Linked DNA regions of Homo sapiens. The protein of the gene in region 1 purifies or fractionates together with the protein of each later gene. This does not show direct contact. Each region holds a gene or a part of one and is shown on either strand. Other genes may lie near its edges. The genes, in order: TPCN2, FBXO10, AGBL5, TRAPPC8, ANKRD27, ZRANB3 and ZDHHC18.

Region 1 (3,500 bases):
GCAGGAGGTACGGGAAGTCATGCCTAGGGTCTGGAGCTGAATTGTAGAGGAGGAGCGTGAGGCCTGCTGGGAGGTACACAGTGTGGGGTGGGAGATGGGCCGGGGCAGGGCCACCTGCCTTAGGGAGTTCTGTCGGCTCTATGGACCTCAGCGTCTGTTAGGTGGTGTGCCTCAGCTGGCTCGAAGCCTGGCCCTAAACCTTGCTCCATGGGCGCTCGGTGGGTTGCTTTACATTTGGGAACGTGGTGGTTTGACTGGGTGAGGGTGGGACGGGGGATGCCCGGGAGGCCTGGACCCAGTGCTGTGGTCCTGCCGTCCCCGGTGACTGCTGGAGGCCAGCCTGCCCTCCAGGCCTCGGAAGGCCTTGCTCTGCTCCTCCACTCTGGCTTGGGCTGAGGCCCAGGAGGGGCCCGCCTAGCTCTCCCCAGCAGGGGAGCCTGTCCCTACCCGTGGCTCTGTGCCTGACAGCGCTCCCTGCCTTCTAACTTCCTCTCAGTGGCCCCTGTGCCCCCTCCCCCAGCAGACTGTGGAGTCTTCACCAATTAGCTCACGTGTCCTTGGGAGCCCCTGACTGGACAGACGAGGGGACAGTGCCATTTTATAGGTGAGGCCTTGGAGGCCTCAGTGCTATTGATGCGGCTGTGAGGCAGGAAGGGCGGCCTGTGCGACAGAGAGTGGCCATCACAGGTGCCTCCATGCCAGGGCCTGCCTGCGGGGTTGCCCCTTGGCCAGCAGCTGGGATTGTGGCTTTGAAACGATCCCTAAGAGAGGAGGTTGCTTTGTGTGCCAAGTCCCGCTGTGCCACCTGCCCCCACAGTTCATACAACCAGTCTGGTTTGCGGGAACCACCCATCTTCCAGCTGGGGGGTCTGGAGGCTTGGTAGGCAGAGGGTGCCCATGAGCCTGGCCCCAGTGAGAGCCCCGGGCCCGGAGTCTCAAGCAGAGTTGCTTTCCGAGCAGAAACACTGCATGTGCCAGCTGTGTTTTGTGGCTGGGACCCCTCTCAGGAGGGAGAGAGGATAGGGACTCCGGTGTGGATGCCCCCTTACCAATGGCTGTGATTCGCCACAGCCACGAGCACAGTGCCACTGAGTCCCGTGGGTGGCTATGGGCGGCCGTGGGCCCTGACACACAGCCTCTAGAGCAGGCTTCACGAAGGGTCCAACCTATCTCACCCTGGCAGCCTGGGCCCCTCTGCTCCTCCTGCCCCTCCTGCCTCTGCCCCGTAGCCTCACTGCTTGCACAGTGCATGGCAGAGTCGGCTGCGAGCAGGCGAGGTGGCCTGAGGGAGGTCACTAGGCTGGCTGAGGGCTTTTTGCTGTGGTTCTGAGCCGGCCTGCTTCCAGGCACCGTGTCCATGCGGGTGAGCGGTCTCCCTGGGTGCCCACTCTTGCGCCCGGAGATCCTGAGTTTGGTCCTGTCTGGCCATGAGCTCAGCCTGCTGGGAGGCCACAGGGAGATGCAGGCTGGGCGGCGGGTGGATGGTTCCAGCCGGTTGGGTCCGGGGCCTGGAGCTCAGCCTGTGGGGTGGGGACCCAGTGGTGCCCTGGAGCTGCCGCTTCTGCTCTTAGCAGGATGATGGGCAGGACAGGGAGAGGCTGACCTACTTCCAGAACCTGCCTGAGTCTCTGACTTCCCTCCTGGTGCTGCTGACCACGGCCAACAACCCCGATGGTGCGTGCAGGGCCAGGGAGGGACCGTGGGGGTCGGTGAGCCCAGCACTGGGGGGCCGGTTTGGGCTGCTGAGCCTTAGAACCCAGTGGGAGTTTCTGAGGCCTTTTTTTCGATAAGTGGAGAAGAAAGGGTGACATTTTCCTTCCTCCCCTTCTTTTCCTATCTCTTCTTTTTTTGTCTTGGTTTTCTTCTCCCTCTCTCTTGTCCCTTCTCTTTCCTTCTTTCCTTTTCTGTCTCATTCCTTTGCTTTCTCACTCCCTCCTCCCTTTTTCTTTTCATCTCCTCTTCCTCCTTGTCTACTCACTCCTCTGAGAAGCTGAAAGTGGCTGGTGTTCTTCATAGGGCGATGATGGCAGTGGTCAGAGGGGTCTCCTGGTGCCGTCCTGCTGGAGCTCCACACATCCACGCTGCGGTTGCTGCCGAGGTTCAGCTGTGGGAGCCACTGGGCAGCAGCATGTGAGGGCCAAGGGTCTTACTGGCCACGACGCTCACCCTGTGTGATGCTCATGGGGCCTCCACTGCTCAGGTGCAGGTGTGGCCAGGATGGAGGCCACGGTCCTGGGCTTGGCTGTGGCCCAGCCACCCTGGCTGGTGCCTTTCATCTTGCGGACCCTGAGTGCTGTCTCTTGTGTCCTCTGAGTCCTAGGAAGTGACCGCAGTGGGAGCAGGACCGTCTGAGTCCTAGGAAGTGACCGCACTGGGAGCAGGGCCGTCTGAGTCCTAGGAAGTGACCGCACTGGGAGCAGGACCGTCTGAGTCCTAGGAAGTGACCGCAGTGGGAGCAGGACCGTCTGAGTCCTAGGAAGTGACCGCACTGGGAGCAGGACCGTCTGAGTCCTAGGAAGTGACCGCAGTGGGAGCAGGACCGTCTGAGTCCTAGGAAGTGACCGCAGTGGGAGCAGGACCGTCTGAGTCCTAGGAAGTGACCGCACTGGGAGCAGGACCGTCTGAGTCCTAGGAAGTGACCGCAGTGGGAGCAGGACCGTCTGAGTCCTAGGAAGTGACCGCAGTGGGAGCAGGACCGTCTGAGTCCTAGGAAGTGACCGCAGTGGGAACAGGACCGTCTGAGTCCTAGGAAGTGACCGCAGTGGGAGCAGGACCGTCTGAGTCCTAGGAAGTGACCGCAGTGGGAGCAGGACCGTCTGAGTCCTAGGAAGTGACCACAGGGGGAGCAGGACCGTCTGAGTCCTAGGAAGTGACCGCAGTGGGAGCAGGACCGTCTGAGTCCTAGGAAGTGACCGCACTGGGAGCAGGACCGTCTGAGTCCTAGGAAGTGACCGCACTGGGAGCAGGACCGTCTGAGTCCTAGGAAGTGACCGCACTGGGAGCAGGACCGTCTGAGTCCTAGGAAGTTACCGCACTGGGAGCAGGACTGTCTGAGTCCTAGGAAGTGACCGCAGTGGGAGCAGGACTGTCTGAGTCCTAGGAAGTGACCGCAGTGGGAGCAGGACTGTCTGAGTCCTAGGAAGTGACCACAGGGGGAGCAGGACTATCTGAGTCCTAGGAAGTGACCGCAGTGGGAGCAGGACTGTCTGAGTCCTAGGAAGTGACCGCAGTGGGAGCAGGACTGTCTGAGTCCTAGCAAGTGACACAGGGGGAGCAGGACCGTCTGAGTCCTAGGAAGTGACCGCAGTGGGAGCAGGACCGTCTGAGTCCTAGGAAGTGACCGCACTGGGAGCAGGACCGTCTGAGTCCTAGGAAGTGACCGCAGTGGGAGCAGGACCATCTGAGTCCTAGGAAGTTACCGCAGTGGGAGCAGGGCCGTCTGAGTCCTAGGAAGTGACCGCAGTGGGAGCAGGACCGTCTGAGTCCTAGGAAGTGACCGC
Region 2 (3,494 bases), on another chromosome or scaffold:
GGCTCTATTTTTATTTTTAGTTCAACAGTTTTTGGGGTACAGGTGGTTTTTGGTTATATGGATAAGTTCTTTAGTGGTGAATTCTGAGATTTTGGTGCCCCTGTCACTCAAGCAGTGTACACTGTACCCAATATATAGTCTTTTATCCCTCACCCTGCTCCCACCCTTCCCCCTGAGTCACCAAAGTCCATTATATCATTCTTATGCCTTTTCTTCGTCATTAGCATAGCTCCCACTTATAAGTAGTGAGCAAGTAAGGACATAGGATATTTGGTTTTCCGTTTCTGAGTTACTTCTCTTAGAATAATGGCCTCCAAGTCCATCCAAATTGCTGCAAAGGCTGTTATTTCATTCTGTTTTATGGCTGAGTAGTATTCTGTGGTATATATATACCACCTTTTTTTTGTTTTTTTTTTTTTTGAGATGGAGTTTCACTCTTTTGCCCAGGCTGGAGTGCAATGACATGATCTCAGCTCACTGCAACCTCCGCCTCCCAGATTCAAGCCATTCTCCTGCCTCAGCCTCCCAAGTAGCTGGGATTACAGGCATGTGCCGCCATGCCCAGCTAATTTTGTATTTTTAGTAGAGATACCATGTTGGTCAGGCTGGTCTCAAACTCCTGACCTCAGGTGATCGATCCACCTGCCTCAGCCTCCCAAAGTGCTGGGATTACAGGTGTGAGCCACTGCACCCAGCCTATACCACATTTCTTTATCCACTCTTTGGCTGATGGGCAGTTAGGTTGGTTGCATATTTTTGCAATTGTAAATTGTCCTGCTATCAATATGCGTGTGCACATGACTTTTTTTCCTTTAGGTAGACATCCAGTAGTGGGATTGCTGGGTCGCCTAAAGCCTCTTTACAGTTCTGCAGCTTCGTGGGTTAGTGACTTTAGGCAAAGAGTAAAAATGCTGGGGCTTTGCCTCTGAGCACTGTGGGAGCAGAGGAAGGGAGAGAGGGACACACTTTCGTCTCAGTTGGGTTGCCAGTGGCCCTGACTTCTGACACTGCCTCCCCTCTCTGCCAGGCCTTTGCATATTGTTTCTCCTTCCTGCAACAGCTCTCCCTGTTGTGCATCTGATAAATGCCTACAACTCACCTATCACCTCTTCCAGGAAGCCTTCCCTGGCTCCCCCAGGCTGTTCTTGGTGCCCTTCTTTGAGCTCATAGGCTCTTCACTGACCTGCCTGGCATGTTCCTGCCTCTTGGTTTTAGAACTGATAATTCACTTGCCCAGCTCTCCCACTCAGTCTGTGAATCCCTGAGGTGTGACAATCTCTGGCTGCCTCTCCCAGGTAATAAAGAACCGGATCCACTCGTTCCGGGCCTACGGCATCGCCGTGCGGGGCCGTGCCAAGGCCCTGGTGCAGGAAAACATCATCTTCCAGGGCAAAACCAGTAAGACCATCTTTCAGCAGATCTCAAACAACCGAGAATGCATCATGCAAAACAACAAGTTCCTGGTCTTCAAGAAAAAGTGAGTGCTTGGGGTTGCCTGAACGAGTCCTCTAGAGCCACAGTAAGCTCCCTGAAGAAGCCAGGCCCACACCCAGGGATTGTGGCTGCCCGGGCTCCCTGCAACCCTGCCAGCTGTCGACTCCAGTCAGAAAAAGGCCTGTGCCTGGCTCTATGTCAGGCCCGGGCTGAGGACTCCCCAGGAGGGAACAAGCTTTTTAAGAGTCAGGGGTATGTGGTTTCAGATCTCAGCTCTGCAGGTTACTGGCTGTGTGACCTTGGGCAACTTACTTCACATCTTCGAGCCTTAGTAAAATCCATTTAATAAGATCACACTATCTGGCTGAATCTCTGAGGGGCTGTAAAAATGTTAGTTGATGCTGCTGCTGTCCTTTAGTCACTCTGCCTCAATGTATCACAATTGCCGCCACCCATCTTCCTCAAACCTGTCTGTCCTTTCACGTTCTCCATTTCAGCGACATCACCATCCACTCAGTGTTCTGACAACAAAACTTCTGCTGCCTTTTTCTCCCTAATCCGAAGATGTCCAGTCAGTCAGTCACCAGGTCTTGTTGATTCTGCTTCTAAAATGTTCCTTTTTCCAGCACCTCCTCTTCCCCAACTGCCCCCATCCTAATTCAGGTCTCAGCACCGCTCACCCTAACCTGTACCGCCTGTGTTACTGCAATGCACAGCTGTTCCAGTTGCTTCTGCTTGGGCTGTGTTCTGATTGGTCCGTGCTTTCGCTTTCACATTCTGGTTGTAAAATCATACTGATATTTGCTGTAGTTGGTATCACTCCTGCACCGCCAATGTCACCTGTCCCCCTGCAGCAGCCTCCTGCCAGTCTCCCTGCCCGTGGCCACCCCCTGCTCCACTCTGGAGGTTGTCCCATGCATCCTGCCAGGTTAATCTTTCTAAGTGAGAGCTCTGGTCAGTCACATCACATCCATGGTTTAAAACCTCTCATGGATCTTCATGTTCTGTTGTAATGATCTCCATACTTTTTGTATTACACACACTCTCGGGAAAAAATATTCTTTGAAGAAACCCCCCGATGTAGGTATACCTAATTATTTATTTATTTATTTAGAGACCAAGTCTCACTCTGTTGCCCAGGCTGCAGTGCAGTGGTGCGATCTTGGCTCACTGCAACCTCTTCCTCCCAGATTCAAGCGATCCTCCTGCCTCAGCCTCCTGAGCAGCTGGGATTACAGGCGCCCACCACCACTCCCGGCTGATTTTTGTGTTTTTAGTAGAGACAGTTTCGCCATGTTGACCAGGCTGGTCTCGAACTCCTGACCTCAGGTGATCCACCCGCCTTGGCCTCCCAAAGTATTGAGATTACAGGTGTGAGCCACCGCGCCTCACCGGTATACCTATTTATAACTTATATATGTGTATTCTAGCAGTATATTATTTACATTATAAACTATCCCCAAAATAGAAAATTTTAAAGTATACAGTTAAAAAAAACCAAAATTCTAGTATTTTCTTCCAATATCCCAGCAGATTATATTGTGGACTCCCTGGGATCCACCTCCTCCTTCCCTTTGGAGACCCCAGGGTACAGGATACAGCCCGGACTTTGCCAATGCCAGCTCTGGTATTGTCCGCTGTGTACCCTGAGGTCCTAATTGTCTTTTCCAGCCTCTCATTTCATCACTCCTTTTCAGTAGTGCTCCCCTGCTGCCAAACTCAAATACATACAGTCCTCCCAACATAGCTTAGGCCTTTTTATTCACATGCTAGTAGCCAACCTCTGATTCCGTCCACACCTTTCCAGTCCTTTCATTGTAACATCATTATCATAAAAATACATATAAGACAATGTGTTGCCTTAAGCAAATGGAGACTTAGTGTGTAAAGTTGGTTCCTTGTAACTCAAGCATCAGAAAACTCTGACCACAGCTTCACTATCATTTTATTTTCCCTGGCCCTCCATGCTCTCTACAAGAGTTTGGGTGACTGGAAACCCACCAACTTCTATCCCCCATAGATTTGCATTTTCCCAAATGTCATATAAAAGAAATCGTGGC
Region 3 (3,500 bases), on another chromosome or scaffold:
AAAGGACACACTTTGCCCCTCATAATGGAAGAGGGCCCCCAAATTGGCGGTAGTTTAGGGAACAGCTCCAAATCCGTTTGCAATAAACAGCCTGGGCACAAAGGTTAGGGCATCCAATGAGCAAATTATAGGTCTGGCCCCTCCTTCCCTTCCACTGTGCTGTGTACCCACCCCAAGGTAGCAGCCTGGATGGGAGGACCAGCATGCTGAGCCAAACTGGACTACCCCACAGGTGGGACGAGCTATGGCCATTGCAGCCCTGGACATGGCGGAATGTAATCCGTGGCCCCGAATTGTACTGTCAGAGCACAGCAGCCTTACTAATCTACGGGCCTGGATGCTGAAACATGTACGCAACAGCCGAGGCCTAAGCAGCACTCTGAATGTGGGTGTCAACAAGAAGAGGGGCCTTCGAACTCCACCCAAAAGTCACAAGTAAGGCCAGCAAAATAGGAGGGAGAAAGGGTAGGACAGTGGGACAGGGCTCTAGAGCTAGGAGTTCCAAGGGATTTATATTCCTTCCATCCTCCTCAAAGTGCCAAATGGCAAATATCTTCAGGGTAAATTAAAATTAGTCAGATTAGTTTATTCTTTTAGAATGGGATCCTCTTCCCTTTTATTCTGAGCTACATACACCTAAGAGATCTGAGTATCAGGCTTGGGATTCACTGCTGCAGAGCCCTGTACAAAATCAAATATAATTGCAGTGGGGCAGGCCTCAGCTTCCAAGGGTTGTGAATGACTGACTGAAGGGAGTTCAAGGGTCAGTGCCAAGGCAGTAGGGGTGAAATTCATTGGGAGATAAAGCTGCTCAGGGATGGCCCTTAAGACATTTTGAGATTAGCTGGTATTCCCCAGGTTAGATACTTCATCCACGGACATGAATTCCTCACTTCTTCCTTGGGATGGGTCCCTGTGCCTTTTTACCCCAGAGGTGAAGCTTTACTGAGCAGCAGATCCTAGGGAAAGCCTTAGGACACAACCTTCCTGGCCCGGGTTAACTGGCATCTGCTTCTTTGCAGTGGGTTGCCTGTCTCCTGCTCCGAAAACACCTTGAGTCGGGCACGAAGTTTTAGCACCGGCACAAGTGCCGGTGGTAGCAGCAGCAGCCAACAAAATTCTCCACAGATGAAGAATTCCCCCAGCTTTCCTTTTCATGGCAGTCGGCCTGCAGGGCTGCCAGGCCTGGGCTCTAGTACCCAAAAGGTCACCCACCGGGTGCTGGGCCCCGTCAGAGGTAAGCCAGTCTGGGAGCCCCTGCAACATGTGTTCGGTTGTCTGGGGCATTGCTGGGGGAAGTAAGAGCTTGAAGATATACTGTTGGCCCAGGACCAAGGGGTGAATCAATAAAATTAGTTTGTAGCAGAACCTGTGGCCTCTCCTACGACCTTGGTGTTCCCTGCGGCATGATTCCAGAGCGGTATTGTGTGTGGCCAGAGGGGGAAGTCTGGGTATCTGGGCTTCAGTGCATGCTAGGAGCCAGGGAAGTTTCCAAGGATGAAACACTAGCTGAAGCAGTGCCAAACAGGACATGGAGCCTCCACGTCACGGACAATGTCAGTCTGTCTTCATGGGGGCAGTTAAGGGAATGTCCTCAGAATCCAAACTGCAGTACTGTAGAATGATGGGGAATCTTATCTGTGGTCTTTATGGGCTGAAATTTTTCCTGGCTTCAGAGCTCATTAAGGAAGTGATACCGGGCTGGGTGCAGTGGCTCATGCTTATAATCCCAGCACTATGGGAGGCTGAGGCAGACAGATCACTTGAGGCCAGGAGTTCAAGAACAGCCTGGCCAACATGGCGAAACCCCGTCTCTATTAAAAATACAAAAATGAGCCAGGCATGGTGGTGCACACCTGTAATCCCAGCTATTCAGGTAACTGAGGCAGGAGAATCGCTTGAACCCAGGAGGCAGAAGTTGCAGTGAGCCAAGATCGTGCCACTGCACTCCAGCCTGGGCAACAGAGCAAGACTCTGCCTCAAAAAAAGAAAAGAAAGTGATATCAGAAGGATTCTAACTCTTCCAAAGAAAAATGGAACAACTGCAGACAATTTCTTTTCTAGGTATAAAATGCAGCAGTCTAGCTCTTTCCAGCAGTGAGCACAGTTGCTTAACTGTGCATTAGTAACCCCCAGGTTTTGCCTGATGAGACCCTGCCTGATAAGATTCTGGGTCAAAATTATATACCAGAAACAGATGGGCCTTTAGGGAAAAAGAAGAGAAAATTAACGGGAGTAACCTGGATTGCGGAGGGGGAGAGATTGTTATAGTGCCACTTCTGGAAATACGCTAAACCACAAATCAATACTGTACTGGCCTCTGCACTACAGAAGTCTTGCCCAGAGTATGGAGGCTTGTCAGCTGGGGCTAAGAGCTTTGCTGGTCTTCCAGCATACTCATCCTTGTTAGCTTTTCCCAGCTTGCACCCTAGCTGTTGGTACAGACCAGACATGTGCTGTGTCAGTGGCTGTGTAAATCTGACTGCTAGTGAGAGAAGCCATGGAGGAGAGGGCAATGGTCCTTACCAGCTGTGACCATTGAGATATTCTATCCCTGACAGGCAACTTGATTATCTGCTTCCAGGCCCCATTGTTTGAGAGTCTATCTTCATCAGGAAAGGACACTTGTGCACTGTGTTTGAAAAATAATAATAATGCCTTATGTTTACATAGCATTTAACAGTGAACAAGATAATATCATATATATAAATTTCATTTAATCCTCACAAAGACGCTATGGGATGGATGTTGTTTCCATTTTTCCAACAAGTAAACTGAGGCTATTTAAGAGTGGTTTCTCCAAGATTGCACAGCTGTTCCAACTTGTATCTTCTCATGCTCCAGTGGCCTAGTTTCCCATGGTAAATCTGCTTAAAGTTTTTCTTCTGTTTCTTTTCCTTTCCTTCTTTTTTTGAGACAGAGTTTCACTCTTTCACCCAGGCCGGAGTGAAGTGGTGTGATCTCAGCTCACTGCAACCTTCCACCCCCTGGGTTCAAGCGATTCCCCTGCTTTAGCCTCCCGAGTAGCTGGGATTACAGGTGCATGCCACCACATCCAGCTAATTTTTTTTTTTTTTTTTTTTTTTTGAGACCGAGTCTTGCTCTGTTGCCCAGGCTGGAGTGCAGTGGTGCGATCTTGGCTCACTGCAACCTCTGCCTCCCAGGTTCAAGTGATTCTCCTGCCTCAGCCTCCGGAATAGCTGGGACTACAGGCAAACGCCACCACGTCTGGCTAATTTTTGTACTTTTAGTAGAGACGGGGTTTCACCACGTTGGTCAGGCTGGTCTTGAACTCCTGACCTCGTGATCGCCTGCCTCGGCCTCCCAAAGTGTTGGAATTACAGGCGTGAGCCACTGTGCCCGGCCAATTTTTGTATTTTTAGTAGAGACGGGTTTCACCATGTTGGCCAGGCTGGTCCTGAACTCTTGACCTCAGGTGATCCACCAGCCTCATCCTCCCAAAGTGCTAGGATTACAGGCGTGAGCCATTGCACCCAACC
Region 4 (3,500 bases), on another chromosome or scaffold:
CCTTTGTCTCAAGGTGGGGCTTTGGCAGGCTACTGTCCCCCCTTCCCCTAGGGGCAGCCTAAATTAACGGTTACATCTCCATGGGTCTCACACCTTCTCTGGGGACCCACTGGTCTCCTAAACTTGCTAATGTCACAGCAGTTGTGAATATGTTAGGGATCTGGTGGTGCGGTGGTGACTCAAGAGCAGAGATTTCCTGGGCAGGGCAGTGGTATCTCCTGTCTCAGTTCAGGCCTGAAAGGAGGGCGGGCATGCCTGTGTGAGCTGGCCACCCACATCCTTGTCCCTGGGACGTTCTCAAACTGCCACTGTTAGTGTTGTCCTGCATCATGAGGGCAGAGGGACTCCCCATCAGTTGGATGGTGAACAGATGGTCAGAGGGGTGAGGGCAGCAGAGAAGTACTCCCACTTACCCTTTCCATGGGGTTTTGTGTTCCTCAGCACTCGATCCCTGCCAAACTCTTGTTGTTTTTCTTTCCTGCACTCTAGTTTCTTTCCATGGGTTCTTCATCATATCCTGGCTGTCTTTTCTCAGTTTTCTGTTTGGATAATTAGTTACTTTGATCTTTCTGAGGAGAACTGGCATCTGAGGATCTGAGGTCCCTAGTAAGTGATCTTTTTTTTTTTTTTTTTTTTTTTGAGATGGAGTCTCGCAGTGTAGCCCAGGCTGGAGTGCAGTGGCACAATCTTGGCTTACTGTAAGCTCCGCCTCCTAGGTTTATGCCATTCTCTTGCCTCAGCCTCCTGAGTAGCTGGGACTTCAGGCGCCCGCCACCATGCCCGGCTAATTTTTTGTATTTTTAGTAGAGACAGTGTTTCACCATGATAGCCAGGATGGTCTCAATCTCCTGACCTCATGATCTGCCCGCCTCAGCCTTCCAAAGTGCTGGGATTACAGGCGTGAGCCACCCCTCCCGGCTGTAAGCGATCTTGAAGAAAATACTCTCCTTTTAAAAAAATTGATACATAATAAACATACATAGTTTGGGGTATAATACGTGATAATTTCATACATTCATATAATTTATAAAGATCAAGTCAGTGAACTTGGGATATCCATCACCTTAGAACCATTCAAATTCTCTATTTTGAAATGTAGAGTAGATGGTTGTAAACTATAGTCACCCTGCTGATCTGTCTAACGCTAGGTCTTATTTCTTCTATCAAACCATGTATTTGTACCCATTAATCAACTTCATTCTCTATCACCCACTCTCCCTGGCCTTTGGTAACCACCAGTCCACTCTCTATTTTCATGAAATCCACTGTTTTAGCTCCCACATATGAGTGAGAACATGCAGGATCTGTCTTTCTGTGTACCTCTTTTGATTTTTTACATTGATGATGTTTATTGCCACAAATATTGCATTCTTATTGCAATACTTGTAAGATTTTGGCATTCCTTGCAATTTTCCATTTTGAACACACATCTTGTATATCATTCTGGTATATTATTAATCTCTTGCTCTTCTTAAGTCCTGCAGTAAATGCACTGAATACCAGGAAGTATGCCCTGACACTTGCCAACAGCACCTTGAAAAGGAGGCTGTGGTAGCACCTGATGCTGGCAGAGAACCCCGTCATGTCTTGCCCAGGCAGTGTTTACTGTGCTGCTGTCCTAGCCCACTGCTTTATTTGAACCGTGTGAGGCATAACCTTTCAGTGGTCACAACACTGGCCAGTGAGTTCTGGCAGGCAGGCAGGCAGGCAGGCAGGCTGGGATCAGCATGGTTGGTCCAGTATGTGAATTTTTAATATAGAAAAAAAAAGTTTATTTATATATTATTATATATACTACTATATATATTATTATATATTATTTGTACTGTGGAAAACTGTGGCATATGTGGCCACATACATTCAATGTAAGTCTCTGATCGTAGGCAAGAAAAAACTTTGATAAATGTGTTTATTGTTTTACTTAATATGGAGAAACTCTTTGTAGACATAGCATGCTTCTAGTTAAAGTATGAGAACATTTTTTTCATCATCATATTAGTGAAATCTGACCATTTTAAATGTTGAAGTTTGTTTACATATCCCTTGCCTTTTTCCAGAAAGAATTTAAGGTAGATAAAGTCAAGTTGAGAAGTAAGCTCTTTCCTCTGAAGTTGACGTTTTGAAATTGTGGCTCAGAGAAGTAGTGGGTAAATGTCAAAGCAGTCTGGCCTCCCTTTTCTTCCTTTAGGTACCCTACTCCTATCTAACGCACACACACAATGGCTCAGGTAACTTTATCTATATCATTCCATATATAATTGTGAAGGGATTATCATAAATGTTAGTTTTATTTTCTTCATTATCCCAGTCCCCCTTAGAGGAAGAACCAGTTACTTAATTGTTTCTATGTGTGTGTTTGTATTTGTTTTTTCTAGTTCAAACAAATTTGGAGTATAATACATTATTTTGTTTATTTTCTTACAGAAAAAGCATGCTTTACGCTGTTATTGTCAAGCCATGCAAGTTTACAAAGGAAAAGGCTGGTCTCTTGCAGAGGATCACATTAATTTCACTATTGGGCGCCAGTCCTATACTCTTAGACAGCTGGATAATGCTGTGTCTGCTTTTAGGCATATTCTAATTAATGAAAGTAAACAATCTGCTGCTCAACAGGGGGCTTTCCTCAGAGAATATCTTTATGTTTACAAGGTGACTGCTTATTTTCATTCAGGAATAGATATTAAAACTGTATTTTAGTGTGAAAGTATTTATTTATTACCATATCTTACGATAGTTTTATTAGAATATATGTAGTTATCAGTCATAAAAAAGCTGTGGCAGGCTAGGCTTTTTGGCTATAGATCTTGGTTACATTGCCCCTTCCACAGTTCTTGAAAAGAGAATTTTAATATTACAATGAACACTTGATTTGTGGCTGTTCTTAGAATCTTAAAAAAAAAAAAGATTCCACAGGTTTTCTGGATTCTTTATTCATCATGCTTTTATAGACTCACAACTGATTTTACAGTTGGTTTTAAGTGGGTTCTCTTTACCATCCTTTGGAGATGGACATTCTATGTTCTTTTCCTTGTGAAAGATGAGGGGGTATGGATCTGTGGAAAGTAGACAGGCTATTATGGTGCAATGGAGAAAAATTAACAGGAAGAAGGACTGTTTCACTGAGGCAAGCAGATAAACATATAAAGCATTGTTTTATGGAAAAAATGGGAAGTTGTAAATTTTTTCCCAAGGCCTATGAATAGTGCATATTATATCTATCGTGCAGAAAATAACTACCTTTAGGGTCTAGACTTTATTAATTTGAAATTATATGGGTTAGAATTTTGGCAGATAGGATGCTATAATGAGTCATAAGAAGTAAAACGCTTACTAAAATAAGTTTTGCATATTTAACATCCAGGTAATTAGCTGAGTAACCTCAGTAAGATTCTTTTGAGGCAGAATAAATATCTGAAGTGCTTCTGAGTTGTAAAATTTTATGACTGATATGAGAAATAAAACTAGTAATTACATATCTTAATATTCTTGCTTAACATATT
Region 5 (3,500 bases), on another chromosome or scaffold:
AACTTAGTGAGACCCCATCTCTACAAAGAATAAAAAAAAAATTAGCTAGGCATGGTGGCTCATGCCTGTAGTCCCAACTACTTGGGAGGCTGAGGCAGGAGGATCACCTCAGCCCAGGAGGTCAAGGCTGTAGTGAGCTGTGATTGTACCAGTGTACTCCAGTGTGAGTGATAGAGCAAGACCCGTCTCAAAAAAAAAAAAAAAAGATGAAGATAAGACTGGGCACAGTGGCTTATGCCTTGTAACCCCAGCACATTGGGAGGCCAGGGCAGGAGGCTCACTTGAGGTCAGGAGTTTGAGACCAGCCTGGGCAACATAGTGAGACACTGTTTCTACCAAAAACAAAACAAAACAAAAAATTTAGGCTTGGCCAGGTGGCTCATACCCGTAATTGTGGCACTTTAGGAGGCTAAGGTGGGAGGATTGCTTGAGGCCAGGAGTTTGAGGGTGCAGTGAGCTATGATTGTGTCACTGTACTCCAGCCTGGTCAGTAGAGTGAGACCCCAACTCATAAATAAATGAAGGTAAGTAAGTAAAGATGAGGATGTATAGAAGTTATTGCAGTGCCTGGTACAAGGACTCTCCCAAATGGTGGCTATTTTTACCATTAGTTCCAAGGAATAGAATTCATCATGCAGTTATGTATGCATAGTGTTTTCCCAAGGAAGCATTCTGGATCCCTGTTACATAGTGAGAGAGTAGCTCCTATTTCATATTTCATTCATTTAATTGTATCAAGGATAAATTCACTTTTACGCTTTTTAAATAGTTGCTGATTTTCTCATTTTAATGAAGAGAGAAGGCCCCAGGCTCAAGCTTAGCATCTAATGACTTTTTTTTTTTTTTTTGAGACGGAGTTTCACTCTTGTCGCCCAGGCTGGAGTGCAATGGCATGATCTCGGCTTACTGCAACCTCCATCTCCTGGATTCAAGCGATTCTCCTGCTTCAGCCTCCTGAGTAGCTGAGATTACAAGTGTGTGCCACCACGCCCGGCTAATTTTTGTATTTTTAATAGAGATGGGGTTTCACCACGTTGGCCAGGCTGGATCCGCCCACCTCGGCCTCCGAAAGTGCTGGGATTATGAGGTTTTAAATAACAGTAATTACCTTTATAATTTTTAACTTTAAGATGATCTTCTCTTCGTTGGAAGTGATACCATTTTTCTATTTAAAGTAGTAATAAGATTTCTTTTTAAAATAAATTTTAGGCCAAGGATGGTGGCATATGCCTGTTGAGCCAGGAGTTCAAGACCACCCTGGGCAACACAGCGAGACTCCATTTCTACAAAAGTAAACAAAAATAAAACAGAAAGGAAAATACATTTTTATAAAGACAATAAGTTATTGAAGGAAAATGTCAAACACTAGCAAGAGAGCCATTATGTGTAATTGTTGGGCAAAATTGTGCTCACATTGTGGGCAGGTTGTTCACTGCCCAGCAGCAGGGGCCGTGCAGCATGTTACCTAGGAGCTGCTCACTAGCCTAGTGCCCTTGCACAGAGCTGCGCCCCCTGGGAAGTCGGGTGCCTGTTTCTAATTCTCACAAAGGTCCCATGTGAGCTTGCAGTAACTGGTGCTATGTTGATATGCAGTACTGCATGTCACAGATAGTGAAGGTGGCATGGAAATGACCCTCATAAGAGTCCTGCAGACAGGTATTAGCATTCTCTGTGGTGCAGGCCCAGATGGAGGCTCAGAGAGGTGGGATGACGTGGTTAGAAATCTGATCTCCTGGCTGGGCATGGTGGCTCACGCCTGTAATCCCAGCACTTTGGGAGGCCGAGGTGGGCGGATCACTTGAGGTCAGGAGTTTGAGACCAGCGTGGCCATCATGATGAAACCCCGTCTCTACTAAAAATAAAAAAATTAGCCGGGAGTGGTAGTGCACACCTGTAATCCCAGCTACGAGGGAGGCTGAGGCAGCAGGAGAATTACTTGATCACAGGGGTGGAGGTTGCAGTGAGCCGAGATTGCACCACTGCACTCCAGCCTGGGCAACAGAGTGAGACTCTGTCTCAAAAAAAAAAAAAAAAAAAAATAGAAATCTGATTTCCTTTTCTGTGCCCATTTTGTAGGCACCCCCTCTGAGAGCTCATTGGCTCAGAGGAGCAGACCAGGGGTGATGAGGAGCAGCTATAGAATGTTTCATGAAACACACAAAGCACTGGTTCACATTAGTTAGCAGCATGGAGCAGTCTGCAGACAGCAACATCCTTCAAACAGCTTACTTCCTAAAGTGAGTTGAACACTGACCTGTAATCTTCTTTTGGCCGTTCACAGACCTTTCAGTCATGAATCATGGAAGGGTCTTCTCTGGCTTCAGAAGTCCCAGTTCTGATGGTAGTGGTAGGTGTGTTCCATACTGATTCTTATTTTATCTGTACAGCGTGACTCTGATGTAAGTCCATTTGGCTTTTGCTTTTAGAACCTTACCTAAAATAAGCAATCTAATTTTAGCAACCCCTTTCACAACAGCAGCAAAGTCTATACAGAATATATAAATAGTCTAATAAAAGTCGTATACGATCCTTATGGAAAAGTCGGAGGACATCGAAGAAGACATTCATGGAAAGATATACCATGTATGTGGATGATAAAATTCATAATTATAGGGCTGAGTGTGGTGGCTCACGCCTGTAATCCCAACAGTTTGGGAGGCCGAGGTAGGAAGATCACTTGAAGCCAGGAGTTCAAGACCAGCCTGGCCAACATGGCGAAACCCCGTCTCTACCAAAAAATACACACAAAAAGTTAGCTGGTGTTGTGGCGTGTAGTCTGTAGTCTGAGCTACTTGGGAGGCCGAGGTACGAGAATTGCTTGAACCCAGGAAGCAGAGGTTGCAGTGAGCCAATATTGCGCCACTGTACTCCAGCCTGGGCAGCAGAGCAAGACCTCTGTCTCGAAAAACAAAAAAAACGGCAGGCTGGGCGCGGTGGCTCATGCCTGTAATCCCAGCACTTTGTGAGGCCAAGGCGGGCGGATCACGAGGTCAGGAGATCGAGACCATCCTGGCTAACACAGCGAAACCCCATCTCTACTAAAAATACAAAAAATTAGCTGGGCATGGTGGTGGGCGCCTGTAGTCCCAGCTACTTGAGAGGCTGAGGCAGGAGAATGGCGTGAACCCTGGAGGCAGAGCTTGCTGTGAGTCAAGATCATGCCACTGTACTCCAGCCTGGGTGACAGAGCAAGACTCTGTCTCAAACAAACAAACAAACAAAAATTAGCCTGGTGTGGTGGCGGGTGCCTGTAATCCCAGCTACTTGGGAGGCTGAGGCAGGAGAATTGCTTGAACCCGGGAGGCAAAGGTTGCAGTGAGCTGAGATTGTGCCACTGCACTTTAGTGTGGGTGAGAGAGCGAGACTCTGTCTCAAAAAAAAAAAAAAAAAATTCATGAATTTAGTGCGGGTCCAATAAAAATCCTAATAGGATTTTTCATGTAATTGACAAGGTGATTCTGATTCATTTGATATTGTAAAGGACAAGGAATAACCTTTGG
Region 6 (4,289 bases), on another chromosome or scaffold:
CATATTATAAATGGGTAGACTTTCAGTTTGACTTTAATCATCTTTTCATTTAAAAGTTTTTGTCATCAATGATATTTAAGCTAAAAAAGGTTTCTTACAGTTACAATTAGGTAAACTATAACCATGAAGATATATATATATATATTTAGAAAATTTTATTAGAAAAACCATTTGCTGTTCACTAATCCTAATTTGGAAAGCACCTCTTCTTCACCTTTTACTTAACTATCCCAGGACAATTACACACGGAGCATGATAGTCCCAATAATTTAAGTTTCTTTATAAAAACAAGCTCAACAGAGTCACCCTTTGCACCTAGTCACAGCAACAAAAGAAAACAAAACACCAAAAAACTTCAAAGCCCACAAAGATTTGTTGGCAGCCTAAGGCTCAGGAATCAAAACGTGTGTAAATCTGATCCCGGGGGACCGTGGCACTGACAGTCATTCAACTTTCTTTTTAATATTCCCATTGTGCTTTTTCTGGTACCACAGGGAAAATGTACCTACATTTTACCAACCGGTCGAAGCTGAAAATTCTCTTGGTGCAAGGCCAGGGGATGCGGCCGTGGGGCGGCCGGGGGAGCCCGGGGCACCGGCGCCAGCCACACGAGAGAGCAGTACCACGCTCTTGGCAGGCCTGCTGTGGCTGGCTCCCGAGTCCCTGGGGCTGCAAGAGCAGCCGCGGAGGCAGCAGCAGCAGCCATGGCAGGGACTCGGAAACCTTTCCCCTGCCTCCTCCGCTAGGCCTCGAGGGGTTTGCTTTTCACATGGCCCCCGGGTGGGGGCGGTGGGCACAAGGCAGTGGCTGCAGCTGCAGCCGGAGCCGCAGCCGCGGGCCAGGCGAGCCTGGCTCACTCGGAACCCGACCTAACGGCGGGCTGGCAGCAGCGGGACGTCAGAAGGCCCTGGCTGAAGCGCCGACGACCCGGCGGGGAAGGCCACCTTTCCACACACCACATCTCTCCCCTGCCTGCCTCCTTCTCCGTTAGCGCTACCGGTTGGCGGGCGGGGGAGGGGAGCAAGGCGCGTTATTCCCGGGGAGCTGGACGGGGGAGGGAAGGGCATCTCTTACCCGCGTTACTGAGGAGGAGGAGGCGGTTGGAGCGCGGCGCGGCGGGGCGACGGCGGGGCTGGGTGGGTGCAAGTAAGAGTCTTACGAAAGGGAATTAACCCCATCACCAGCCCGGACACCGGCTCCAGCGGCAGCCGCGGCTGGCAGAATCCCGCCCCTTCCCACCACGCACTAGCCCCGCCTCTTCGTTCTCTTTGAGCGGCAGCCGACTATTCATAGGTTGTACGTCCCCGGAGTGACATGAGTTTTGCCCAATCAAGCTTGAAAAAAACTGTCTTCTCTCCACCCCTTTACCTCCTCCCAGGCCGCGGAGAGCCGTGCCAAATCTTCCTCCAACCTCAAGAGAAAAAGAACCAATCCGTGGTAAGTAACCGCCCTTGAAGGACGCAAAAGCCAACCAATGGTAAAACTAGGAGGACAGCCATTTTGCCCACTTGTAAAAGAGCTACCTTTTCCCACGAGTTGGAGCCTGAGGTGCGGAGTTTCGTGAGTTTTTACTGACTCGAGGTATTTAAAAGACAACCAGATCTCCTCAGTGGGTATTTATAGTGCTTTTTAGGGGTAAAGGAAAATTATCCTCCATGTGGGGCGAAGTGAGGCATGCTGCTTAAGGGGTTGGCTCCTCCCCTTAGCGCTAACGGGTTCTGAAACGAACACCTGGTTTCTCCAGCTTCAGTGGCGGAGGGCGGGGTGATTGCTCTTTTCGGCCTGGAGCGGACTACGATTCCCAACATGCTTTTCCCCTACTCATAACTTCTCCTCCGTTCACTTGTCGCGGTGCTTGGCTGGAATTGTAGTTCCTGAGAGGTACCCATGCCGCCGCTTCAGCCAATGAAAAGGGACAGAGTTTTGAATGACTTGAAATTAGGGCGGAGAACGAGTTGTCGCGAGGCTGTACAGAGCCCTTTTCGCAACCCTAACGGGAGAGAAGTGATGGAAGAAGGGTAGCCGGAAGAGTTTCCTCAAAATACCATAGGGGTTTTAAATTATTAGTACGTATTTAAACTCATCTACTTTCACGTTGTCCCGTTGAACGTCACTTCCGCTTAGGGGCGGACACGTCCCAAACCTGTGGCGGGAGTTGGAGATTCTGCGGCGAATACGCCAGGTGTGACTGGCTGGAAGTGGCGTGGCTGGCAAGTCGCTAGTTTCTTGCATGGGAGATAAAAAGTTGAACGGAATTTAATGGCATTTTAAGAAAGAGTGGGTGACATGGGATGGGGGTAATTTCCAGGGCCCTTATTACTTTCTCCACCCCGGCCTTCAATCGCGGGCGTCTCGGCCTGCTCGCTATTAGATTGCACGGCTAAATTTGTAGAAAGTACCTCTACTGCCTTTAGTCTTCGCGTGGTCAGTTTGAACTGTAAAGACAGGGCTCCGAAGTTCTGAACTACATTTACAGACACACTTTTTTTTTTTTTTTTTGAGACGGAGTCTTGCTCTGTCCCCAGGCTGGAGTGCAGTGGTGGGATCTTGGCTCACTGATTCACGCCATTCTCCTGTCTCAGCCTCCGGAGTAGCTGGGATTACAGGCGCGCGCCACTCAGCCCAGCTAATTTTTTGTATTTTTAGTAGAGACGGGGTTTCACCATGTTGGCCAGGATGGTCTCGATCTCCTGACCTCGTGATCCGCCCACCTTGGCCTCCCAAAGTGCTGGGATTACAGGCGTGAGCCACCGCGCCCGGCCACAAACACACTTCTAAAGTCAGCTTGGAAGGAAAAGAGTCACAGAAAAGGGCTTTTCTGTTTGAAGGATTGATAATCAAGAGTGGCCCCATCACCACTCTTTGAGTAACGACCATTTATTAAACGAGTGGCAGACAGGCGCGGTGGCTCAGACCTGTAATCCTAGCACTTTGGGAGGCCGAGGCGGGAGGATTACTTGAGGTCAGGAGTTCGAGACCAGCCTGGGCAACATGGTGAAATCTTGTGTCTGCTAAAAACTCACACACACACATTAGCCGGACGTGGTGGCAGAGATCTGTAGGATCTGTAGTCCCAGCTACACGGGAGGCTGAGGCAGGAGAATCGCTTCAACTTCGGAAGTGGTTACAGTGACCCGAGATCGCGCCACTGCACTCCAGCCTCGGGTGACAGAGCGAGACTCCGTCTCAAAACAAAAACAAAAACAAAAAACGTGTGACTACAGGGTGCCAACTATAATACACCGATGAATAAAGGCATCACTAAAAAGATGCCTTTATTCATCGGCCACATGGAGCCCACAGCCTAATAATCTTAGCACGTAAGGCCCTGATTTATGCCTCCTTCAGAGTTCAAGGGCGACTGTATGTATACTTTTGGACATTCCATTTAAGGTACCCAGGAAAACTGATTGAATAAAGAAGATACAAGTTACAGAAAAGGGTTTTTCCCTCCCTATGCGTGTGCCCTTTATTCTTAAACTCTTTGCTTTATTATTTTGACTGAGACTTTCTCAGATAAATTCTAATTCAGTTTACTCCATGATTTTACTGAGATTTTCTCTTATAAATCCTGTTGTATTTATGGTATGAGCGCTTAACACTGTATTGGGTACTATACCAGACTTTGGGTAGAGCAGTGCCTAAAAAGACAGGCTCCTTGTCCAAAAGTTGTGAGGAAGAGAGAGGCTAAACAAAATTGTAATGTCACTTACTGTTTCAATCTCTAAGTCAAGTCTTCTTTAGTCACATTTTGTATGTTTATTTGGTCCCTTCTTTACATTCTACCTTTGGATTAAAATAAGCACGTTTTCCTCTTTGCATTGTTTTTACTAAAGCACTAATCTGTGTCCAATACTAACGAGTGATGTTTGTATACAAAGTAAGATGGTAAATTTTATAGTGTAATCCTGCTAGATATAGGAATGTAACCATACCTTGCAGCAAGACATTTTTGTAGATCTACCAGGCAAAGTGTTGTCTCTTGCTTTTTAATGCAATTAGGATATTCAGTGATAATTTAGCAATGCAGTCTACTGTAGATGCTTAGTTTTTTTTTTTATTTGTTTGTGTCAGGAGTTCTTCCAGTGTAAATCTAGTCACTAAATAGTAATGATGGCCATCATTTTATTGAGTTTCGTCTGAGCCAGAAATGATGTTATGTGTGATAAGTACATTTTCCTTATGACAAACTGTAAGTCTTCTTGACATTTTTATATTTGAAGAAAGTGAGGCTCAATGAAGGTAAATAAGACTTGTAGAGGTCTGACCTGGTGGCTCATACCTGTAAT
Region 7 (3,500 bases), on another chromosome or scaffold:
CCTGGTATGCAGTAGGTGCTCAATACTTATTGAATGAATGAATTGACAGTGTATTTGAATTAATTGACAGTGTATTTGCTGGGAGGCTGGAAACCCTAGTTCTGTCATTGGCTGGCTAGATGACCTTGAACCTAGCTGTGGGCCTGGGAGAGCTGTTAGCCTCTGGCAAATCAGGAGGCTAGGACTTGGTGGTTCCTGCAGGCTCTACAAGTCTTAGATTTCAAGTCTTCTCTGTCCCCCCACACAAGTCTGATTGCATATGAACTGGATTCATTGCCATGTGGGTGACACTGAGCGCCCACTGGTTCTGTTTGAGGGTCAGACCCAGAAACCATTGAGATGTATGGAGCAGAGTGTGACCCACTGGGAGCCCTTGGCCTTGGCAGTCTGCTCCTCAGGGGAAGGGCTTCTCTGAAGGCCAGAGCATCTGATGACGGAGACTTCAGAAGCAGCATGCAGGTGCCCACAGGTGTGTGCCTACTGTGCCACTCCTGGAAGCTTGGTTGATCTCAGGCCTCCCAGGGCCCCGTCATCTCCTTACCTGATCAGGTGCTACTCTGGCTATGGGGTGATGGTTAAAAGTATGAACCTCAAAGTCAGACCTGGCTTGGGTCCCACTTTAGCACTCCTGAGCCATGTGACCTTGGGCAGATTACTTAAACTCTCTGAGCTCTAGTTTCTTCATCTGTAAAGTGGGGAGCATAACTTCACAGGGTCCCAGTGAGGATTTGATGAGAAAGTACACAGGAACTGCTTAGCCTGGTACCTGGCCCATCCAGGTACAGTAGTACAGTAACTATCTGTAGATAGTACAGTAACTATCTACATAGTACAGTAACTATCTGTACATAGCACAGTAACTATCTGTACTTTGGATGTTGCTAACAGTAGTTTATTAATTAGGGCAGTGTCTGGCACATAGTAAGCCTTCAAAAGATGGTAGCTATTTTTCTGTCCCCTGGCAGCAGTTATTTACCGGGTACGTCCTTGGTGCCAGGTGCTGTGCAGTGTGCTGGAAATATAAAGCTGAACAAGAGAACATAGTCTATACCCACAGAGGAGCTTATGTTTTTTTATGTTTGTTTGTTGTTGTTGTTGTTGTTGTTGTTGTTGAGATAGAGTTTTGCTCTTGTTGCCTAGGCTGGAGTGCAATGGCACGATCTCGGCTCACTGCAACCTCTGCCTCCCGGGTTCAAGTGATTCTCCTGTCTCAGCCTCCTGAGTAGCTGGGATTACAGGCACATGCTACCACACCCTGCTAATTTTTCTGTTTTTATTAGAGATGGGGTTTCATCTTATTGGTCAGGCTGGTCTCGAACTCCTGACCTCAGGTATCCGCCCACCTCAGCCTCCCAAAGTGCTGGGATTGCAGGCGTGAGCCACTGCGCCTGGCCAAGCTTATGTTTTAGTGAGAGAAAAATAGCCATCACATAGACAAGTAGCTGAAATCTATACTAAATGTTATACAGGAAAGAAAGAGCATTGAAGTTCACTGTGTACAGAGTTGTCAAGGTAGGTCCTTCTGAGGAGGGAAGAGGAATCTGAGAAAAGGAACAGCAAGTGCAAAGGCCCTGAGGTAGGAGAGAGCCAGGCTTGTTATAGGAACTGTCATGGGCTATTGTGATGGGAGGAGCAGGAGCAAGACGAGAGTTTTGTAGAATGAGGCTGAAGTCCTCAGTAGGGCCCAGATCATGCCTGGCCTAGAAGGCCATGGTAGGGAGTTTGGATTGTATTCAAACTATATGGAAAGCAATTGGGAGGTTTTAAGCAGGGAAATGACATGATCTGATTGACATTTCCAAAAGTGGCTCTGGCTTCTGGGTGGACAGTGAGGTGACAACAGAGAGGATTGGCCATAGAGAGAGAGCCCTGATAGCTTCACTATCATGAAGCCATTCTCCCACCAGTGTCCAGAACTTCTAGAATGTTCTAGCCCTAAGATGGAGGAGGGAGCTTGAAGAGGGCTGTGGTAGGCAGCCTCCCTGGGGGACAGAGGCATGACCATTCAGCAGGCACAGGCTATTCTCTGAGGCAGCCAGGGTCAGGGGGTCTGAAAGCACTGCCTTGGGGATACCTGCCTACCTTGGGTCACAGTGACAGTGGCTGGACCATGCAGTTCCCCCAGCCCTCTACTCATTCTTCAGGTTGGAGCTTAGGATTGTCTCCTTCAGGTTGCCTTTCCTGACTGTGCTACTGCGTTCCCCTCCCCCACTAGAGCACACATCACCCTGTGTGGCAATTCCCTGTTTACATGTCTTGTTTTCCCCACTAGACCATAAGCCACAAGGGGGAGGGACTCTTGTCTTATCCGTCGTCATTATTCCTGCTGCTTATTGAAGGTGTTGCCTGCCACAGAGAAGACCTCAGTAAATATTTGTGGACTGAGTGAGTGAATGAATGAGTGAATGAACACTGCAGGATGGTTTGTCTCAGGTGACAGTCCACTAGTGTCTGCCTGAAGCTCTGTGTGTAGAGGGATTCTCTGGATGCAGAGGTTAGGAGTGCTGGGATCTATTGGACACATCTGCCATGTGCTCTGGAGGAAAGTATATCACAAGGATCAATTAGTGATGTCTGTTCCCGGTACTTATTGGGGAGTGGCTGCACTCATCAAGGAGCTGTGCCTCTGCCTCAGAGCGAGGCTGTATTCAAGATTTTGGTGGTGGTTGTTGGAATGACAGCGCCTGCCACGTGCTGTAGCCCTGTGCCGCAGGGAGCCCTTGGGGTGTCTGCTGATCTCTCTCCATCTCTCGTTCTAGCTGTCCCTACCTGGCTCGCAAGCTGACCCTTGCCATCCCCATCATCGCTGCCATCCTCTTCTTCTTCGTCATGAGCTGCCTGCTGCAGACAAGCTTCACCGACCCTGGGATCCTGCCCCGGGCCACTGTCTGTGAAGCAGCCGCCCTGGAGAAACAGATCGGTGAGGTTTCTACTCCCAGCTGAAGCTGGGTCTCCATAGCTCCACATTCCCTGACTTGGGAGGAGGCCTGGTTTTCTCTTCCAAAACTATACTAGGAACTGGGGATGCAGTCGTGAGCAAGGCAGGCTGGAGCTGACACTGGCACAGAGGGAGACAGATGATCAACAAGTGAGCAAATAAGTAAGCAAGAAATGCTGGCCAGCCAGCAAAGGCCCCGATGGCAGCCAGCGTGGAGCTGAGTAGTTCCTGGGGGCTAGGCACTGTTTTAAGCTCTTTATATGCATGATCTTATTTAATCCCCCAGTAATCCTATGAGGTAGGTACTGTTGTCATTCTCCTTTTACTGATTAATTAAATCAAGGCAAAAGAGGGTCCAAGATCACAAAGTAAGTAGAAGAGCTGAGATGAGACCTCAGTCTAGAGCACCTGCTCTTAAACATTCATATACACTTATTCATTCACTCATCAAACATTTATTGACCCCCTACTATGTGCCAGGCACTTTTCTAGATGTGATACAGCAGTGAACAAAACTGACAATAGTCCCTGTCCTCATGGAGCTTGACAGTTGAGGAGGAGG

The links.
Region 2: the proteins of TPCN2 (region 1) and FBXO10 purify together in Homo sapiens (affinity purification with mass spectrometry; 2 studies listed by BioGRID and IntAct, with this or other methods). This does not show direct contact.
Region 3: the proteins of TPCN2 (region 1) and AGBL5 purify together in Homo sapiens (affinity purification with mass spectrometry; 2 studies listed by BioGRID and IntAct, with this or other methods). This does not show direct contact.
Region 4: the proteins of TPCN2 (region 1) and TRAPPC8 purify together in Homo sapiens (affinity purification with mass spectrometry; 2 studies listed by BioGRID and IntAct, with this or other methods). This does not show direct contact.
Region 5: the proteins of TPCN2 (region 1) and ANKRD27 purify together in Homo sapiens (affinity purification with mass spectrometry; 2 studies listed by BioGRID and IntAct, with this or other methods). This does not show direct contact.
Region 6: the proteins of TPCN2 (region 1) and ZRANB3 purify together in Homo sapiens (affinity purification with mass spectrometry; 2 studies listed by BioGRID and IntAct, with this or other methods). This does not show direct contact.
Region 7: the proteins of TPCN2 (region 1) and ZDHHC18 purify together in Homo sapiens (affinity purification with mass spectrometry; 2 studies listed by BioGRID and IntAct, with this or other methods). This does not show direct contact.

Annotation. Positions count from the first base shown.
Region 1 is NC_000011.10:69,065,932-69,069,431, forward strand, and holds part of TPCN2 (two pore channel protein 2), read left to right. Parts: intron 1-1,571; coding exon 1,572-1,674; intron 1,675-3,500. UniProt on the Homo sapiens protein: Intracellular channel initially characterized as a non-selective Ca(2+)-permeable channel activated by NAADP (nicotinic acid adenine dinucleotide phosphate), it is also a highly-selective Na(+) channel activated directly by PI(3,5)P2 (phosphatidylinositol 3,5-bisphosphate).
Region 2 is NC_000009.12:37,513,887-37,517,380, reverse strand, and holds part of FBXO10 (F-box only protein 10), read left to right. Parts: intron 1-1,295; coding exon 1,296-1,477; intron 1,478-3,494. UniProt on the Homo sapiens protein: Substrate-recognition component of the SCF (SKP1-CUL1-F-box protein)-type E3 ubiquitin ligase complex. Mediates the ubiquitination and degradation of BCL2, an antiapoptotic protein, thereby playing a role in apoptosis by controlling the stability of BCL2.
Region 3 is NC_000002.12:27,058,168-27,061,667, forward strand, and holds part of AGBL5 (cytosolic carboxypeptidase-like protein 5), read left to right. Parts: intron 1-232; coding exon 233-435; intron 436-1,022; coding exon 1,023-1,237; coding exon of another isoform or gene 1,238-1,302; exon of another isoform or gene 1,303-1,368; intron 1,369-3,500. UniProt on the Homo sapiens protein: Metallocarboxypeptidase that mediates deglutamylation of tubulin and non-tubulin target proteins.
Region 4 is NC_000018.10:31,873,629-31,877,128, reverse strand, and holds part of TRAPPC8 (trafficking protein particle complex subunit 8), read left to right. Parts: intron 1-2,424; coding exon 2,425-2,649; intron 2,650-3,500. UniProt on the Homo sapiens protein: Plays a role in endoplasmic reticulum to Golgi apparatus trafficking at a very early stage. Maintains together with TBC1D14 the cycling pool of ATG9 required for initiation of autophagy. Involved in collagen secretion.
Region 5 is NC_000019.10:32,665,181-32,668,680, reverse strand, and holds part of ANKRD27 (ankyrin repeat domain-containing protein 27), read left to right. Parts: intron 1-3,500. UniProt on the Homo sapiens protein: May be a guanine exchange factor (GEF) for Rab21, Rab32 and Rab38 and regulate endosome dynamics.
Region 6 is NC_000002.12:135,528,419-135,532,707, reverse strand, and holds the start of ZRANB3 (DNA annealing helicase and endonuclease ZRANB3), read left to right. Parts: upstream 1-1,489; 5' UTR 1,490-1,581; intron 1,582-1,977; exon of another isoform or gene 1,978-2,210; intron 2,211-4,289. UniProt on the Homo sapiens protein: DNA annealing helicase and endonuclease required to maintain genome stability at stalled or collapsed replication forks by facilitating fork restart and limiting inappropriate recombination that could occur during template switching events.
Region 7 is NC_000001.11:26,829,688-26,833,187, forward strand, and holds part of ZDHHC18 (palmitoyltransferase ZDHHC18), read left to right. Parts: intron 1-2,759; coding exon 2,760-2,920; intron 2,921-3,500. UniProt on the Homo sapiens protein: Palmitoyltransferase that catalyzes the addition of palmitate onto various protein substrates, such as CGAS, HRAS and LCK. Acts as a negative regulator of the cGAS-STING pathway be mediating palmitoylation and inactivation of CGAS.